Linked DNA regions of Homo sapiens: region 2 is linked to region 1. The links come from fine-mapping of genetic effects on gene expression. A gene starts in region 1. The other region holds a variant in brackets. All regions are shown on one strand. Distances are between the middles of the regions.

Region 1 (10,346 bases):
TGATGGTTAGCACTCCAGAGCGAGAGCCCCAACTTCCCCAAATCATTTTATTTTACAGTCAGAATGCTATTAAGGTTGCCACCCACAATAAGCAAGGCTACCATGTGGTACAGAACTCTTAAAGAGAATGTCCACAGTCCTAAAAGTAAACCTCCTGAAATTAAGGAACAAAACTGTTTTTGTGCATAGAAGACTGCAATGCAACAGGTGTCAACTCAGTGAAATGGCTTTGCTCACCAATTACATAAATCTGGGTTCCGTTGCCTATGCCCAGGTAGTATGGCGGTGGGTACATGAGCTCCACCTTGCAGATGTAGAGTCCCGTGTCCATGGCCCTCAGTCCTTGGATAGTGAGGTTCACTTGATTTCCACTGGAGGTGCCCGTGCAGATGGAATCATCTAGGAAGGTCAACTCATTCCCCATCATGTAGGTTGCCGCACAGACTTCAGTCACCTGGCTGTCAGCCTGCCGAAGCACTGTCACCCGGACCTCAGTGGCTTTGCCTGGAGATGCATACTCACACACAAAGCTGGCGATGCCTCGGCTGCTGGCCAGTACCACAGCAGGCTGGGCCACGTGCATTGCTAGCATGGAAAAGCCAAAGGGAACTCAGTGAACTCATGCTCCTTCATGGCCAAGCCCAGGCAAGCCCTTCTGCCTTCTAGCTTCATCCCCACGGCCTTTTCTCCCCCCTTCAACGAATCTATCACTTACCCCTTCCCCTCTCCACACCCCCAGCCTCCCCTCCATCTCTCAACTGTTTTCCAGCTACTCTCCATAAAGATATTTTCTTACTGAGAAATAGATTCTTCAAGATGGTTGTGGCAGGAAGAACACTGATATGACAAACAGAAGACCTGGCTCTACCATGAAATATGTGATTTGGGGCAAGTCACACTTCCCCCATGTCCTTCATTTTTTTCACATATAGTAAGAGATAATTAGATGAGATGATATGTTCTCTGGTATTCTAAGGTTATGATAGAATGATAGGAGCTATATAGCTCCGGAACTATAATGAGTGGTAGGGGAAATTCTGAAGGTTGAGGTACAGAATCTTGCTTTATCTCTCAAAGTATATGTCAAAAACTTCTGCCTACTTAGTGAGCTGGCCCTGAACCTCTGTCACCCAGGAGTAGCTGTGTCTTGATGCACTGTACCAGCCTCCGCCTTCCCTGGCATTGTTGTAGAGTGGAAGATGTTGTTAGATGAAGGAAGCCACAGAGCCGAGGGCACCAGGTCGCTTCCTCTCTAGGTTGAGGCAACCCTGCTGTTAACTCCTGTGGGCTTCCCCTGACACCACCGCTGCCTCTCTGCCCTTTATTTCTCCTTCCCTTGAACACTCCCATGCTCCTTTGTTCTCTTTTCCCACAGGATAAAGGAGACCAGCTCTCCATACAGAGAGGCTTGCATCAACTCAAAAATAGTGGCTGCATGCCAAATTACCTTCCTGTAACTAACCAGGCCCCTCTCCAGTCAGTCTGACAAGTGAAACTCAAAACTTGTGTTGCATGATGTCACTCATCTGCTCAATCCCTTTGACACTTTACTAACACTGATCGCAAAAACAAATACAATAAATAACATTCAATGAGTCCCCCATGATCCAATTCCAATCTATCACTCTGGTCTGAATTTCTAGGACACACTTTCCTGCTTATAAATCACCCTATATTAGAGACACTAGTCCCTTCCACCAAGCCACTTGCACGGGACATCTGTCCTCAGAAGAGAAAACAGTTTGGCAGCAGCCATTGTCATGTCTATTCCAGCAGCTCTAGCTAGCTAGACTACAGCTTCCTTCCCTAACCCTCACCTCTGCCTATCAGAGATGCCCTCTGAGCATCCTTAGCACTGTGATAACTCCATTGCAGTAGTTCATTACTTTCTGCTCTGTATTAAAGTTATTTGTGAGCTAATCATATCTCCTCACTCTTTTACTTGTGGTTCATGAACTCCTGTGAGCAGTGATTATAGCCCACCCAAGTGAGCACTCAATAATCTTTATTGTATTGACTCTAAGCTTAAGAAATCCTAAATGTCCTGCCCTCTCCCCAAGCAAGCTCACACTCATCACCACTAAATGCGGTCACACTCAACTTTCCAGTATTGGGAGGGTCCTGTTACTGGTTGAGATAAATTTACTTTAGGAAATTTAAATACTTCTAAGAGTGTTTATTTAATCTTTACATATTTAAAACATGTAAAAATAAGAAAACATATATGAATATTTCTTCTCCAGTAAAAATTAAATCATCAAATATCTTTTGAGTACCTACTTCATACAAACTACATGGTTTCTTAACCAAGAAGGTCTAGAGAGAGATAAGGTTGAGATTCAATGGATATACTCATCATTTTAAGCCGTGTAACAAACCTGGTGTCAGTCTCTGAAGAGCTGAAAACTGAGGATCTGCATCTGAAACCCACACGTAGGTCAGGCAACAATTAAGTATTGTATGCCAAACAGACTGGTGGCTTTCTTTCTTTCCTTTTCCTTGTCTTTTTTTTTTGGCAATTTCAAACTTTTATTTTTAAATAATTGGCTAATTAGCTAGTAGAATTGATTAAGAGAACCTTAAAACCTTGAATTAAGTAAAGAAGGCATTCTTCCCACAATTTCCCTACATTTTAAACAAGCTGGCTAATTCATTTATAAAGTATATGAATCCGAGGACCTTAAAACCTTGAATTGTATAGCAAAAAAACTCTTCCCAGGATTTGCTTAAGTCAATTTTTTTTAAAGGAACTTGTGAGCTCATCCTGAAACCCAGCTCAAATGTATTCAGGACTATGGCTATCCTTTCCCTCTTAAATCACTTCCAGTCTCATAGAAGGGTCTGAAATTGCCTGTGTCTCTCTACTAAACCAACTCACATGCATTCATGAAGCCCCTACTAAATACCTGGCGCTCTGTTCTGAGCTATCTCTTTGCCTTATTTGCTGCCGCCCAACTGCTCCCTGCTGGCCCTGGAATACAGAGCCAGCCAAGCCAGATTGGAGTTTTACCTTTAACTTCTGGCTTTGCTATAAATCACTGCCTTTGACTGCTGAAACAAATGAAACCCAGGTAGGAGAAACACCTCCTCCATCTTCATGCTCCAAAAGTCTCACTCACCTTTGCAGAAGACAGGGATGAAGAGAAGAAAAAACAGGAGAGTGCAGGGCCAGGTCCTGGTAGCCAGGTTCAGCTGAGCCTTGTGCCGCTGAAATCCAAGGCAAGCCATGGCTTTATGGGAGCGGTGTTCAGGTCTTCAGGAAGTAGAGCAAAACCTTTCAGGATCCTGAAGCTTTGAAATGTGTTTGAACCCACACAGAATCAAGGACTTTATATAGATAGCTTTGATCCCAGATATGTATTACACATGTGCACACACAGAAGGCACTTGAATAGAAAGCCTTTTTGTTTTGGTTTTACGAGAAAGGAAGCCGTGGGTTTAGCTGTTACGTCGAAAAGACAACCTCAAGCACTCAACTGAACAAAACAAGCCAATCCATGGATGGAAAATGTATTCAATTTGAAACTGAAGCTTCATGTTCACTTTGAGGATCTGGATAACTAAGTGGAGACTTGGAGAATTTCCTGGAGTACAAGGGTCCTCCTAAATCCCAATTTTATTCAATCTTCTGGGCATCCTTAACCATCCAGTCCAATTCATTTCATTGACAACTCCAAAACTACTAGGCTGCTAACTTTCTGAGCCCTTGGGCTAATGGCAGGATTTGTCTAGGCATCATTAATAAAAACTGTATTCTATCTGTGAAGCACCATCCTTCTAATGGTCCCTTGACAGCTTTACAAATAAGTTTATTTCTCCTAAATCCATTTAGCATTTGGTTAAGAGAAAAAAACTAAAATCACAAGAAATAAACTGAAAATAGGCGGAAAAGAAGCTGCCTCTGGTTTTGCAGAAGGAAAGAATTCAGGTGTTCTTAAAAGCCTTAACTCAACAGAGACAAAACAGAGTTGAAGAAGGTCCAAAGAAAAGCCAACCCAAATGATTCAAGAGATTAGAGCCGTCCATAAAAGGATAGACTTTTTTTTCTAATACAAATTTTTCAAGCAGAAAATTCAAAAGTGAAGATTAAATATAACCAGAGTCCTTAAATTTGTGACAGCTGTAGACAGGACCAATGATCTAACAAAAAGAATTTGAAACATTGAGGACCTTCCTTAAATCTGGAGAGTTTTCATACATTTTAATAAAGAAAGAAACATTCATGGGGAACCTGTAATATGCCCGGAATTCTGTGCACTTAGGATTGAATGATGACAAAACAAAAACATAGTTGATACCTTAAGGGGCTTCTAGAAGGCTGACATGCAAACAGACAGTTGTAACAGGGAATATGACATTTGCCTACTCCAGTCCGTCCATGGTTTCCCATTGTCCACACCTCAGCACAGCAGAGGAGACTCTGCAGAATACTCACCAAATGCCTCCCTCTTTGGCCTGTACCCCAGCATTCCCTCCCATTCCCCCTTCCTGCATTTGTCTTTCCTTCCACGTGCCTCTTTCAGGCCTCATCACCTTTACCCATGCTGTTCCTACTGCCTTTTTTCTCCTATTATCTTATTTTATACTCCTTCTCATCCTCCAGGACTTAGCTCAGCTGTCATCTCCTCCAGGAAGCCTCTTCTTTTTTTTTTTAAAATTTTATTATTATTATACTTTAAGTTTTAGGGTACATGTGCACAACATGCAGATTTGTTACATATGTATACATGTGCCATGTTGGTGTGATGCACAGAAGCCTTTTCTGACCTGCCTGTTTTCTATACACTGCTACACATTATAGAAACCTTCAAGCCCCAGCTCAAGCGCCAACAAGCAATAACAACCTAATGGGCACTTCCTAATGCCAGACTGGGCAACAGAGGTTTTTTAAAAAGTGAAAAACAAATGTTCCTGCCCTCAAGAGGAACACACAGCAGTGGCAGGGACAGACAGCTAAACCCATGATCATGATAGAGTGAGATCAATGCTGGAATTGAAGTATTATGTAGAGGAGCAGAAGCCAGTGGTTCAGCCTGTGGAAGTCAGAAAGGGCTTCTCAGAAGACGAAAAGCCTGAACTTATTATTGAGAACAGAGAAAAGGGTGGATATTCAGACAAGAAGAATAACATGGGCTAAAGTTGGAAACGGCATGAAGAGTTCATTATGGTCACAGGACAAAGCTTGTCTGGGGATGAGCAGAAGGTGCAAGCGGATGCTCTTAGCAGCAAGGGCCAATGAAACATAAGGAGCAAACTGGTATGACTGAGTTCACATTTGGGGGAAATTTTAGGGATGGGGAGGATGGGTTCAGGGAGAAATGTAACCAGGAAGACTGGGAAGAAGACTATTGGAATACGCCAGGCACCAGGATTTGGAAAGCTTTCTGAAGGGGGCAAAATAGTAAATATGTTATGATTTGCAAACGGTGGGGTCTCTGTTGCCACTACTCAACTCTGTCATTTTAGAATGAAAGAAGCCATATATTATATGTAAACAAATGGGTGTGTGTGCATTCCAATAAAACTTCATTTACGAAAATAGGTGAAGTCTGGATTTGGCCTGTGGGCCATGGTTTGCCAACCCCTGGTCTAAACTAAGGTAATGACAGCTGTGAAGACGAGGTCCCTATGGGACTAGTCCACAATCAGTGAGTGGAAGGAGAAGTTTAGAATGAATGACACCAGAATTATGGTTTGAGAAGTACTGTGGTGCTGCAGAAATTATTCAAATGTCAAGTTTTCTTTCTTTTCTTTTTTATTTTTTTGAGACAGAGTTTCACTCTTGTTTCCCAGGTTGGAGTGCAGTGGCGCGATCTCGGCTCACTGCAACCTCTGCCTCCTGGGTTCAAGTGATTCTCCTGCCTCAGCCTCCCAAGTAGCTGGGATTGCAGGCACCCACCACCACGCCCAGCTAATTTTTTGTATTATTTTAGTAGAGATGGGGTTTCGCCATGTTGACCAGGCTAGTCTCAAATTCCTGACCTCAGGTGATCTACCCGCCTCGGCCTCCCAAAGCGCTGGGATTACAGGCGTGAGCCACCGCGCCCAGCAAGTTTTGTTTCTTTCAAGTCCATAACAACCCTACAAGACAAGAGTTACCATTTTTCCCATTTTATAAAGAAGGAAATCAAGGCATTGAAAGTTAAGGTGACTTACCCAATCACCCGTAGGAAGTGGCAGAGCCAGGATTTGAAGCCAGTGATACCTTTATCACTATGCTAAAGCAAAGATTTTGAAGCCCAAGATAACTGGATTTGTATCCTAGCATGGGGACTTGCTTACTGTTGACCTGGGGCTCAAAGCCCAATGTCCTCCAGATAATGGCATCTAATTCTCAAGATTATTGAAAAGATTAAATGAGATAATGCATGTAACATGTATAAAAGGCCTATTGTAACAGATAGCCACTCAATAAATAGGCCTTTCTTATTATAGGGTCAATGAGAAGACAGAGGTGCAATTTACTGGAATAAATAACAGGAAGAGCAGGTGAGAAAGTGAAATGACAGCTTTCATCTGAGTATGTTGAGTTTATGGCATCCATGGAAAATAGTTGCCAATAGGATTCTGGAGCACAGGAAGAGACATTAGTTTAGGCAACTATGAAGCCACTGATGAAAATGTCACAGGCCAAGCCACAAAACGAGCATTCTTTAAACATTTGTTAAATAGGTAGGTAAATGAATGAAGACAGTTTAACATAAGAAGAGATGAGGGTTGTAATTAGAACTTTCAAAGACGTCTTACCAGATTCCTTAATTATGCTCTTATGAAACTAATTCTGTCATAGCAAGAAAATTCAAATGGTTGTAAAAAAAATGCTGGGTAAAAGAATCTTGGTGAGAAAAGATATATTCACATATACCACCCCACAGATTACTTGATAATTACAATAGGGAAAAGATAATTGATAAATCTAGCAGATACTGCTTTAACCAAGTGATCCCAACTGAAGATTACTGTGATGGAGTGTTCTGACATAGGGTACCTCCAGATACAATACACTGAGAAGGACACAACAACTTTGTGTAGTTATTGCCAAAATTGTTTTAACTGAATCTAAGCATGAAGAAATAATCAGACAAATCCATATTCTGCAAAATAACTGGCCTAGATTCTTCAAAAATGTTAACATCACAAAAGATTAAAAAGGGAAAAGCCTGGAAAACCATTCTAGATTAAAGGAGAAAATAGAGACATGATGACAGAATTTAATGTGTTATTATTGATTGAAAAAAATAATACAAAGCAGATTACTGAGAAACTGGGGGAAATTTGAGTATAGCCTATATTTCATAATAGCATTGCCTTAATGTTTAATTTCCTGAATGTGATCATCGTACTGGGGTTATGTAGAGAACCATCCTTGTTTATAGATAATACTTAGGTATTCGAGGTTTAAGTGTCAGAATGTCAGCAAGTACTCTCAGAAGGTTCAGCAAAAATATGTGTCTGTGTTAGCAGAGAAAGATAAAAAGAATTAAACAGCAGTGATGGAATTTTAACAATTGGTGAATCTAGGTGAAGAATATGTGTGTATTCATGGTACTATTCTTACAAATTCTTTGTAAATTTGAGGTTTTTCAAAAAAATTCGAAGTAAAAATTATAAGGCCAACTATTTATATTATTGATAATATGGTAGGCAATAAACGAGGGATGAGCAAACTGAAATTTAGAGAGGAAAAGTGACTTGCCGAAGGTGATTCTCCATCCCCTTTCCTCAGATCCAAGCTCCACCTGGGACAGACCCCTGTAGAAAATGTCTCATTAGTTCCCTGTCAGGGTGGCTTCTGAGGGCTTAGCATTGGAAGTTCCCAGCACATCAGAAAGCACAAGGTGGAAGTCCAGGTCTTTCTTCCCTGCCCTCTCCCAGGTTCAGGGCCATGTGTCTGGTAGTAACAGTACCTCTCCACAAGTACAGCTCTTGTTTGGTGGCCCTTGTTCTATGATGCCCATTCTTACTCTTACCTCCCCTAGGGTAAGAGTAAGAATCTTACCCTAGATTCTTAAAGAATCTTAAAGAATCTTAAAAAAAGAGTAAGAATCTTTCCATCCTAGGGGTGCTATCAGCTTCCACTGTTGCTAGTGTCTGGGTGCATTACGAACCTCCACCCCTAACCCTTCTTAATATTTCTCAAAGTAGTTCTTTCATTGAATCTTTTATTTGAACCCCCTGTTGCCTGTTGAGACCCTCATTGATCTAGTGCTACATTTGGTATGTGGCAAAAACTAGATTGAAATCTTCGTCTTCTCATTCTCATTCAGTACTGATTTTTCCCGTTATCTTATGTACAGCAATAACATGTTGTATCATATAGGTTTGTATTTATTATAGTCAATCATGTGTAATTCTGTCTGTCTTCCTCCAAATTCTATTTCCACAGCACTTACAACCTCAACACACACAAAGCACCTAGTCAAGGCCTCCTTTGTACCTAGTAGATAATAGAGAATTTCTGCATTTCAGTTTAGATCTCAAGCATTTTTATTTCTCTCGCATCTCATTTCCAGCTCTGGGGAAAGTGCTAATCACTAAGGACACAATCATAGGCCTGATAGGTACTAATGAGCCCAGCAGAGTGATTAAAAGCATGGCTGGAGTCAGACAGACATGAGTTCAAGTCCTGGCTCTGCAGCTTCTGGATATGTGATCTTGGATGACATTTTTTAACTTCTCTGATCCTCAGCTTCCTCATCTGTAAAATATGGGTAATTTACAGGAATTATCTTGTATCATTATTGCGATGATTCAATGAGCCTATACCAATAAGTTATTGAACACTGTGCCTATCATATACTATGTTCTCAGGAAAAATTAGTTTACATATTAAACACAGAGAACGCTATGGATTTTAAATTTCAGCTGTTATATAAACCCTCTTTCATTATCATTTCTACTGAATAGATGGTATTTTAGATTAAAATCAGATACTAATTATTCTAATACTCACATATTGAATTTCTGCCCTGTCAGTATTTCCATGAGTGTCTGGAACCAAACGGCTTATTATTTTTTACCTGATTGAGTCTAAAAACTCACAACTCTACACATAATCTAAGAATTATGTATTATAAGCTCTCAATTATTCAGTGGCTGAATATTCAAATGTCTAAGGGTACCACATCCTTGGATATTTTCATTTCAGGTTAGGAAGGGGAAAGTCAATTTGCTAATTATTTTTACCACTCCAATTATAAAAGAAAAAAAGGTGGGGGGTTGGTGGTAAAGGAAATGAAAATAATCGGCTAAAATTAGGACTTGGGGATTCACTGTGATTTCATTTATACTCACTATCTTCTTATATCCTAATAGCTTGAGTAAACCCCAGATTGGTTTTGTAGTACTCTTAGTGGTTACTGGGTTTGAAAGATCTCTCAAGATTTGCATAATTCATAGTGGTGCCTATGGTGAAGTATCTTCAGAATTCCAAAAGAGGTAGAGTTTAAAGAGTAACTGGGTTGTTTACTTAATTGTAAAATTCCTCAGCTTATATAGCTCATTCTGAACTGAATTCAGCTTTTCAGATTTTTGAACTTTTTCCCTAAACCTCCTCCAATTATCCTTTACCCAACTAGTATACCAAAACAATTTTAAAAAAATCAACCTTTTATTGAAAGAGTTGCACCTGGCATTGACTGTGGTACCTACTGCAAAACATCCTTTGCTTGATGGTTTCCGATGTAATGGGAAGAATGAAAAGTCTAATATTTGCATAGTGTGCAGTTTCAGGACATCCCATTACGTTGAGCCTATAATCATGCCTAATTAAGGTTATATACTCTGTGTGTTTGTGCTAATTAGCTCATCACACAGAGCTCCTTTCAAAATCGACTTCAAAGGAAAAAGAAAATCATCTACCAAAGTAAGTGACTGCTGAAGAAGAATCTATCAATCATCTCACTTCGAAAGAGAATTAAAGAGAAAGGAAATGATATGCAAAGTGACTGGAAAGAAATTTTAGCTTCATTACCATTAAAGGGTGAAAATATGGGCTGGGCAAGAACCCAGTTAAATAAATGTGGTAGATTAATTTTCAGTCCCTAGGAAACTATAAGCCAATCATAAAATCAGGTAAAAAATGGATGCTTCTGAGCTGTGGACTTTGTCAGTCCTTTAGTGGGGAAACAGAGTAGGTTCCTCCTGGCTTTTCAGTTTACATTGTGAACAGGGTTGTCAGGGAAGCAAAGTTGTATTTGCTGATTTGGATGACAATGAAATGCAGAGCCTGCTTCAGTTGAAGGGTAATCTTTGCCTGTCACAGATTTAATTATATAGAGATGAAAACAAATATTTTTGAATGAATAAATAATAAGTCGGCTGGGCATGGTGGCTCATGCCTGTAA
Region 2 (10,346 bases), 29 kb after region 1:
CCATAATGGAAGACATTACCCGTAATGTTTACAAGAGAAGACAACAAGAAAGATGGTTGTGAACAAAACTTATGAAAGCAGGTATTTATATGCCCATACGTAGTATATGGGTAATGAATTAAATGATTTTGATTTTCGTTCACACAAAGATAGTGGAATAAGACTGATGCTTTGGATGTAGAAAAGAAAGATTAGATCATGATCAAAAGAAACCAGTGTAAAAGAAGATGAGGGCAGAAAAGCACTCTGTTACAAAGTTATATACCCGCAAGGAATGTGACTCATAAAACCAAATGGATCCATGAGGAGAGTATTTATATCCATTTTTTGTTATTTTTATTACAAAATCTATGCATGTTAAGTACAGAAAATTTTTAAGAAACTCATATAAACAAGATAATTCCTATACCCATAAATAATGTGTTAGCAATGGTATATGTATGCATACTAAACCATGAGCAAAGGACCCTAGCTGTCTTGTTCACAGCTGATAACTCAGTGGATATTCTTTGGATGAATGAATTTAAGATGTTTTTTCTATGCATATATACATATAAAATGGAGTTATCCCATACACACTATTTTGCACTTGACAGTATATGACAGACATAGTTCCATGTCGAATTATCTCCATGTCAGTATATTTCCATCTACCGTATTTGATTGCTGTGTTTTATGACATGGAGGTACCATAATTTACATGACTGATTCCTTTTCTGTCTGAGCCCACTGGTTGGAGGCATTTCCTCCTTTTTATATTTCATTTATTTGTCCCTCCTTTTCCGTGAGCTCTAATAGTTAATCTCACGCTTTCATGAGCGTTTTGGTTTCCTGAAGAACTTGTTAAAAATTCAGACTCCTGAGCTCCATCCCTGGAAATCTGAATTCATTTGACTAAAGGGGATCATGGGAAACTGTATTTTTTAGAAGATCCTAAGTGATTCATCCACAAGAGGGTGGGAAGACCACACTGTGAGAATCACCATTTGGTCAAGCTACAGAATACTATAGGCATATTTCCACTCCTTTTCATTATTTGCAACCCTCCACCCTCTGGAAGCCCTGACCCGATTTTGAGAGAAATATATAAAAATCTGCTTCCAGACCCCAGAGATGCAAAATAAAGGACTTGATGCTTACGGATTCTTAACCATAGAACAGGCCAACATATACAGTCAGTCAGAAACATGCAGGTCTTATCACATCTGCTGCTTCTGAAAACAAGCAACCATTTGAGACAAATCAGTGACAGAGGGACACCTCCCAGGTTGTGAGAAAATTTTGTCCGCTGATAAAATTCTACCTAATTCCAATTTTACAGAGGCTTTGGATATGTGTGTGTTCGGTTAATTAAACCTTTCCTTCAATTAGCCCATTAAAAAAGTCCAGAAAGATCAGAAAGCATACTGGGAACCTCCTTTATCATTTGTCTCACTGATTTGTCCTCCCACCTTCCTGCCCCTCCACCACTGCCTCTCACCCTGGTCTGTGGCTTTGTGCTGGGAAGGGCTGCCACAGGAAGGGGGATGGAGAAGTGTCACTTACAAAGTGTTTCAGTTGAGTAAGCTCCTTTTCCACAGTCAGACTTGGAAACCCAAGGCTTATTGGAAGCCAAATAATAAATCCTGTGACCAATCAATCACCGCATTAATTGACAAGCATGGGTAGGAACCGTAATAGCAGTGGGAAATGAGGTCTGATCCCTGTAACAAGGAACGCAATGGAGCTGGAATCATGTTCTAGCAGAAGCAGAAATCAGCCAGCTCTGGCTGCCATCATCTCTCCCCAGAATGGCCGCAGCAGCCCTCTGATTGATGTCTTTGCCTCCTATGAGTCCCCTCACCTCTTCTCCAGAGGCTGGTGCAAATCTGAGCACATAAGATGTCTTCTTAAAACCCTTCCATGACTCTCCATGACATCTGGCATAGAATCCAAACACTTTAGCATAGCTATCAAAGTCCCTCAAGATCTAGCCAGTGCTTTTCTCTCTCCAGACTCACCTCCTGTCTCTCCTCCCACAGCCCTCCCCTCATGCATCAACACACACACCTACTATGTGCTCCAGCCATAACCACACTCCGTGCAGATTCTCTGATTCACCACACTCCCTCAACTCAGGGCCTTTGCCACACACTGATTTCTCTGCTTGGAATATTCTCTATCACTCTTGCTGCTTCTCCTCCTGACAAAATTCTGCCTAATTTTTTAGGTCCTATTTTATACACTGTTCCCCCAGGAAGCCTTCTTTCATCCTTATCCCTTGTAGTGGTAGTAGGTTGAATAATGGCTACCCAGAGATATGTCCTAATCCCTGGAACTTGAAAATGTTACCTTACTTGGAGAAAGTGTCTTTGCAGTTGTAACTGAGTTAAGGATCTTGAGATGAGAAGATTACCCTGGATTATTTGGGTGGATCGTAGATGCCATCATAAATGTCCTTATAAAAAAGAGGAAATTGAAGATCATATAGAAACATACAAGGCAGAAGGTGATGTGAAGTCAGAGGCAGAGACTGGAATGATGCAGCCACAAACCCAGAAATGCTGGGGAGCCACCAGAAGCTGGAAGAAACAAGGCACTGATTCTCCCCTAGAGTCCCCAAATGGAGTGTGGTCCTGCCAGATTTCTAGCCTCCAGGACCTTGAGAGAATAAACTTTTGTTGCTTTAAGCCACCAAGTTTGTAGTAATTGGTTACAACAGCCTCAAGAAACTAATATGCCCTCCAACCTGGAAGAGTTCTCTCTTTCCCTCTTTTCCCAGGGTACTTACAGCACTGAACTATTATCACCTATTTACTTGATTTCAGACTCCACGAGATTAGAATTAGGAGCACTGTCTGCTCTGATCCCCACGGTATCCTCAGTGCCCAGCACAGGGCCTTTCACACAGGAGAGGCTCAATAAGTAACTGTAGAATCAATAGATGGATGAATGAATAATGGAATGAATGCATGCATGCACAGGGAAAGCTTTGCTTAGAGCGATAAAACAGGGATACCTAATAACTATTATTTGAAAGGCTGTTATTTAGAGAGGGAGAGGAAATACAAATGTATTGAATGTCTACTGTATCAGCCACTATGCCAGATGACTAATGTCCATTATCTCATTAATACAACATTTTTTTTTTTGAGACAGAGTTTCGCTCTTGTCACCCAGGCTAGAGTGCAATGGCGCAATCTCTTGGCTTACTGCAATCTCTGCCTCCTGGGTTCAAGTGATTCTCCCACCTCAGCCTCCTGAGTAGCTAGGACTACAGGCGCCTGCAACCACACCTGGCTAATTTTGTATTTTTAGCGGAGATGTGGTTTCACCATATTGGCCAAGCTGGTCTCGAACTCCTGACCTCAGGTGATCCACCCACCTCAACCTCCCAAAGTGCTGGGATTACAGGCATGAGCCACCGTGCCCAGCCAATACTCACAACATTCTTAAGGAGTAGTTATTATTGCCCTGGTTTTACAGAGGAAGAAGAAGTAGGCTCAAGAAATTAGGTTATTCACTCATGGTCACATAGGAAGAAACAGACATCTGTGAGGACCCTGGGGTTGTAATGAGACCCACAGGGTGGAAGCCACAGGGGAGGCAGAGTGCAATTTAGAAAGATGCTCTTTGTATTAATAACTGGAGCTATCCAACAATGAAACGAGTTGTAGAAATCTAGCAGAGGATTAGTAACCTACAGCCCATGTACCAAAACAGAAGTGGAAGTTGGCAAAGAGCATGGGCTTTTCTGGGACCCTCTCTCCTGTCTATGGGCTGGCAATCCACCGGCCCTTTCCCTCTCCTGAAGCCTCACTCTAACAAGGACCAATACTCAGCATTAGCCCAAACTTCCTCCCCATCTCCTGACACTAGACCAGGATTCAAACCTTCAGAAAACCACTTTTGAGAGTTCTCTGAGCCCTGCACAACGTTTCCCAAAGTGTGCTTAAGCCTATCAGGTATTCCATGAAAAACGATCTTCCCTGGAAAAGGACTCCCTCCATAAGGACTCCAATACAATGTATGAATAATCCTGTTTTACTTTTTAATAAAATTTCTGAAATTAACTTGTTTTCTCCTCGTTTATCTCTTTCTCTCAAAAGCAGACTGCAAAAGATCAGATCAGTAAGTCAAGAGTGCAGTTGGACTTGTGATCCTCAATCTGATATGACTTCTCTCCTTCCTTTCCACATGCAGAGATACTGTGAGCTTCTCTTAGCATGTTTGTGTAATCACTTTTCTCAATTGTTTGGTATTATTATTGTTTTTCTCCTTCTCTTATCCTCCCTATGAGATTGTATGCTCCTTAGGAGCCCAAGACAATATCTTGTTTTTCATTCCTTGCAGCACTATCTTCATTTCATAGCATGTGGCAGTCAGTCAATTGGACTGCTCAAAGAAGTTTGACTATATTTTATTTTTTAATTTATGTGAATCTGATTATATTCTACTAATGGATTAGAATTTCTTGGTGACAGAGTAATTAGTACTTTCTGAATTCATATTCAATGCGATAACCTCAGTTTGGAAAAATTCAACTTACTACATGCAGAAATCACAACCAAAAATTTAAGGCTTTTCTTTACTATCA[G/A]TTTAAACAGTTCCTTTTTATCTTCAGACACACCAATATATTTCTTGATTGTTGTTAGGTTTTAGCTTTAATTTTTAAATTAACACACAGCAAAATTGACTTTTAAAAATGGGTTTACAGTTCCATGAAATTTAACACATGTATGGATTAGTATAACAATCACTATCAGAATACTGAACAATTCCATCATTCCCGAAACCTCTCTCATACTATTCTTTTTTAGTCACACTTGCTCCCAGCCCTAGCCACTGTCCCCATGTCTTTCCCCATCACTATAGTTTTGTCTTTTGGAGAATGCCAAATAAATGGTATCATATGCTATGCGGCCTTTTCATATGGGCTTCTTTCACTCAGCATAATGCTTCTGAGATTCATCCAAGTTATGCGCATCAGTAGTTTCTTCCTTTTTGCTGATGAGTAGTATTCCATTGGATGGATGTCTCATAGTTTACCCATTCAGCTGTTGAAGGGCATTTAAGTTGCTTCTGGTTTTGGTGATTATGAATAGAGCTTTTACAAATATTTACGTACAAGTTTTGTGTGAACATAAGTTTTCATTTCTCTAGGGTAAATGTGCAGAAGTGGGATTGCTGGGTCTTATGGTAAGTGTATGTCTAGCTTCATAAGAAACCATCAAAGTGGCTATACCATTTTTGCTTTCCCACCAGCAATGTCTAAGAGCTCTGGTTGTTTTGACTCTTCACCAGCACTTGATATCAGTATATTTTATCTTAGCCACCATAATTGGTATGTAGTGATATCTCATTGCTATTTAGGTTTTTACAACATTTACACGTGAGGCAACTCAGTCTAAGTTAGGGAGGGTGTTATCTAACAAAACATATGACCCCACATTTTATTTGATTTTCCAACATCCCTAAGAATATAATGTAGCAGTTGCTTTATAAAATATCCAAGGATAAGCTCATCACTGTATCATTTTCCCAATCTATATTTGAAGTTTAACTGTTGGTGTATCGTAGTAGAGCAACTGAATGCTCCAACTGAACCTAAGCAGAAATTGTGCATGGACATAACAAAATACAATTCGCCCCTACATACAGAAAAGGCAACATGGTACAGAGCATGAAAGAGGTAGGTCACTCTTCTATGCATTGTCTCAGAACTGGGTTCCTCTTCCCAGATCCCTTGCTTCCTATACCCCAGCCACACTTGTCCAAATTCATCCCTACTCCAGAGCTTTGGCACAATTTGTCCCCTCTGTCTGAAATGTTCTTTCCCCGTATCTTAGTAAGACGGGTCCCTTCTGGCCATTCAGATTTCTGCTTAAATGTCATCTTATCAATCACATCAATGATCACGCATCCGAACGGTAGCGCCACAAGTCACTCCCTATTTTCATCATGCCGCTTATCATTGCCTGAAATTATCTTGTTAACTGTGATCTGTCTTTCTCTGCCAACTCAATAGCTCCAGTGCCGGGAACAACACTTCATACATAGTAAACACTCGTAAATGAGAGCTAAATGGGTGGATGACTGAATGGATAAACACATGTGTAAGAAACTTTCTTCTTGCAGACACTGCTGGGGGGATGTTACTCATGGTACTTTAAGCATAAGCCCTGCCCGTAACTTGGTCTTCACATCTTTGAAGCATTGATGGGAAGGGTAAAAACTGGAACCATCGTTTCGAGACTGTAAGCACTTTTCTGGCTTGTGAGGCAGAGACTCAAACAAACCTTTGGTACAGACCAATCTGTCGTTCTCGGAAAATCACTGGAGCAGGCCTTTTATTCGTAGAGCAGAGACCCTAATCATAAATACAGATGCCTGAGACAATGTCACAGCAGGAAGCGAACTGCTCTTCTGAGAATGTAAAAGGTTGTCTGTAGGGTGGGCAGACTACGCTTCCTCTGAAGAAACACTTCTTTTCTAAGAATGAACTTGGATGGTGCTGTGCCTGCCCACTTGCTCTGGTTCTCATGGGGCACTGTTTTCTGCACTCATGGGCAGATCTGCTGCTGAGGCCTTGAAAATATAGGACGTACAGATTTTATTTCACTTCATGTAAAAGCGGACTGACCCGGGCTGAGTGGCGCACAATCAGGACTCTGCTACGATACCCCTATCTGTGTTAGTATTGAAGCCGGAGCAACGAACACTTTGAGAAAGGTTTAAATAAATAAATGCATACAGCTGCTCTCACTGTCTTGGCTCTGACATGTTTTCAGAGTGCTCCTTACCAACTGCTTTTCTTCATAATAAAATGACAGTACTTACAACCAACAGCAGCATCCTAAATTATGGTAATAAACGCTTCCTCTTACAAAATAATTTGGTTTGGCTCTTCGGTCACGTGATAAATATTTGTTGAGTACCTACTACATGTCACACACCTTGTAGGCACTGAGAAAACAGTGGTGAACAAAACAGACATTATTCCTACACTCATGTATCTCATAATAGTGGGGAAACAAATATCAAATACAACAATCCAATTACAAACCATGAAGAGTGCGCAAAAGCCATGGAAACATTTAATAGAGAGGCATCGCCCCATCTAAGGCATGAAGGAGGCCATCCTGAAGAAGTCGTTGTTCTTGAGCTAAAATCTCAACAACAAATGGAACTAAACTAGGCAAAGAGGAGGGGAAGAACATTTCAGGCACAGGGAGTAGTATGTATGGAAGTCCTGAAGGAGAAGAGAACGTGACATCCTCAAGGACTGGAGGCCAGCCAGGCTACGGAGGGAGACTGAGGTCCAGGATGAGGATGGAAATGTTCAGGGGTCAAATCACACAGGCCCGTGGGTCATGTTAAGGATCTCTGCCCTTATTCTGAGAGCCATGAGAAATTTTGAAGGGATTTGGGAAGATCACTCTGGTTCAGGGCAGAGCTCCTACTTGAGAAGGCAAGAGGTAATCCAGAAGAAGTATTTAGGAGGTGTACCAATTAGCAAGTTATGGTCCCTCAGCTCACATAGACACTACTATGATTTGTGATGCTGAGCCTGGGAGTCTGCAAACTACATTTCTGCTTTTTTTTTTTCCTTCAACTTTTAAGTTCTGGGGTACAAGTGCAAGAGGTACAGGTTTGTTACATTGGTAAATGTGTGCCATGGTGGTTTGCTGCACAGGTTAACCCATCACCTAGGTATTAAGACCAACATTCATTAGCTATTCTTCTTGATGCTCTCCCTCCTGCCTCCACCACACAACAGGCCCCAGTGTGTATTGTTCCCATGCCCCCTGTGTCCATGTGTTCTCCTTATTCAGCTCCCAGTTATAAGTGAGAACATACGGTGTTTAGTTTTCTGTTTCTGTGTTATTTGCTGAGGATAACGGGTTCCAGCTCCATCGATGTCCCTGCAAAGGACATGATCTCATTCCTTTTTATGGCAGCATAGTATTCTGGATCTGTGTTAGACTCTGTCAGTAGAAGGTGTTAGAGGGAGAACTGCAAGGCTGAAGAAGGAAGCAGGGACTTGCTCCATGTTTGTGTGGATGTCACCCCAGGCTCACTTCTTCACCCCAGCAGCAGCAGCAGGTGTGTCCATTAGCAGCAGCTGAATCCACTTTGCAATTTTTTCAAGACTTGCAGAACCAGCTTCACTGCCCCTTATCCTACTCCCCAGAGACATCAACACTAGCCAACTGGAGACCCTCCTCGGAGGTCTGGGTCCCAGGTTATAAGACTCCTGCAAATTTCTAAGTTTTAGTAATTCTAACCTTTTCCTCTTGTTCCTCCAACCCTAGGAATAGTAGCTGCAGCTGCTTCCTCTGAGATACATTAGCATTCTCCTTTTGTTTCTCAATTACCTAGTTAACTGCATTATGCCTGGTTAACAGCTTTTTTTTTTTTTTTTTTTTTGACGGAGTCTTGCTCTGTCGCCAGGCTGGAGTGCAGTGGCACGATCTCGGCTCACTGCAACCTCTGCCTCCTGGGTTCAAGCGATTCTCGTGTCTCAGCCTCCCAAGTAGCTGAGATTACAGGTGCACACCACCACATCCAGCTAATTTTTGTATTTTTAGTAGAGAGGGGATTTCACCAGGTTGGCCAGGATGGTCTCGATTTCCTAACCTCGTGAGCCGCCTGCCTCGGCCTCCCAAAGTGCTGGGATTACAGGCATGAGCCACCACTCCCAGCCAACAACTCTTTATGTAAAATTCTCTCTGTTTAAATAGTTGATGTGGTTTCTGTCTTCTGCCTGGACCCTAGCAGATACAGGTCGCTACTGCAGCTCTGAAACAAACGGGGATAAAGGTGGCAGGTAAAATGGGAAAATATCATTTTTTATCTGAAGTTTCCATCCCAACTTGATTACTCCATAATTGATTTGTTCTTTAAGATTATGAGGAAAGGGACTTTCTTTCAAGCTATTGGTAAAAAACTGGGTCCATAATAGATATCTAATAAATATTTATTGAATAAATTAGAATAGGCTTTATAAAAGTTTAAAGGGTCTCAACAGACATCTTTACAATTTCTAATTTATTCTACCATCTTGAAATGTATACCCATATATGTTTAGAAATAGGTATATCTAGAGATCAAAGTCATAAGATATAACAGCCCATGCTAAATGTATTTTAGCACAGTAAAATACTCCCATGCTATTTTAGCACAATAAAATACTATATACAGTATATGTACCCTGTACATATAAAATACAGTAAAATACTCCCATGCTATTTTAGCACAATAAAATACTATACACAGTATATGTACCCTGTACATATAAAATACAGTAAAATACTCCCATGCTATTTTATTGTGCTAAAATAGCATGGGGGTAACATCGAATAATTTTAATGCAGAATTTTATAAAACACCCTTTAATCCTACTGGTTGATATGAGGCAAAAGTTATTCTGCCCAGCTTGATAAAAGATTCATTTTAATATACTATTTTCTAAGCAAAAATGAAACAGCTATTGTCTGATTTTAGGACACAACTTTAAATGTTTTAGAAGAATAAAAGTTATGAGCTTTCATTTATCTGGGTTATGAAAAGGCAGACTGATATCCTCAATGCTATTAATAACATATTTAAACTTCTCAATACATCTACAAAAATGTTAACTATTTTTAAAGAAGGTAACTTTTATTAAATTTTTAGTTTAATTTAAACTTGCAATAATGTCTTTCAATGTTCATTTCACTAATCAAGGCTCTCAATTCACAGAACCACTACTCCATGTTCAGTTCACCCATTGTTTTCCCTTGAAGTATATAAATTTTCTATTAGAAAATTAGCCTATTAGATCCTGGCTCCTCTTTCCACATTATGGTATCTAAAGCCACATCATTTTCTCTTATCAGTTGCCAAGTCCTATCAATTTTACCTTCTCAATTCTTTCACATCCGTACTCTCCTATCAATTTCCTCTTCCACCACCCTTTTTAGTTCTTTGTTTCCCCTTACTTGGACTACTGTAGTAACCTCCTAAATAGAGTTGCCGGTTTTAGCAAATAAAAATACAAGAAATTCAATTAAATATGAATTTATTCAGATAAACTACAAATACTTTTCTAGTATAAGTATGTTCCAAATATTTTCCAAATATTGCATGGAACATATTTGTACTAAAAAAAATTCTTGTTTATCTGAAATTCAATTTAACTTGGCTTCCCATATTTTATCTTGCAATCCTAACTCCTAACTCATGTCTTTATCCTCTCCTTGTTTCAATCCACCTTTCATATGTTTCTACATATATCTAAAATACAAACTTACGATCATACCACACCATCACTACCACCCTGTCCATGTTTTTAATTTTTCAGGCAAAGGGAAATGATTGAAGAT

The links. PIP is the estimated chance that this variant, and not a neighbour inherited with it, causes the effect. A credible set is the group of variants that fine-mapping cannot tell apart.
Region 2: its variant is the best candidate, but not a certain one, in a credible set for the expression of CTLA4 in whole blood (INTERVAL, PIP 0.84).

Annotation. Positions count from the first base shown.
Region 1 is chr2:203,860,825-203,871,170 of GRCh38, reverse strand. It overlaps CTLA4 (cytotoxic T-lymphocyte associated protein 4), which reads right to left and starts at 3,400. Exons shown (of 4, transcript NM_005214.5): 1 at 3,120-3,400; 2 at 238-585. The coding sequence starts at 3,228.
Region 2 is chr2:203,832,168-203,842,513 of GRCh38, reverse strand. No RefSeq gene overlaps it. Among named protein-coding and RNA genes, the nearest start is that of CTLA4, 30 kb to the left of the region's middle. The variant G/A (reference allele first, on the strand shown) is at 4,577.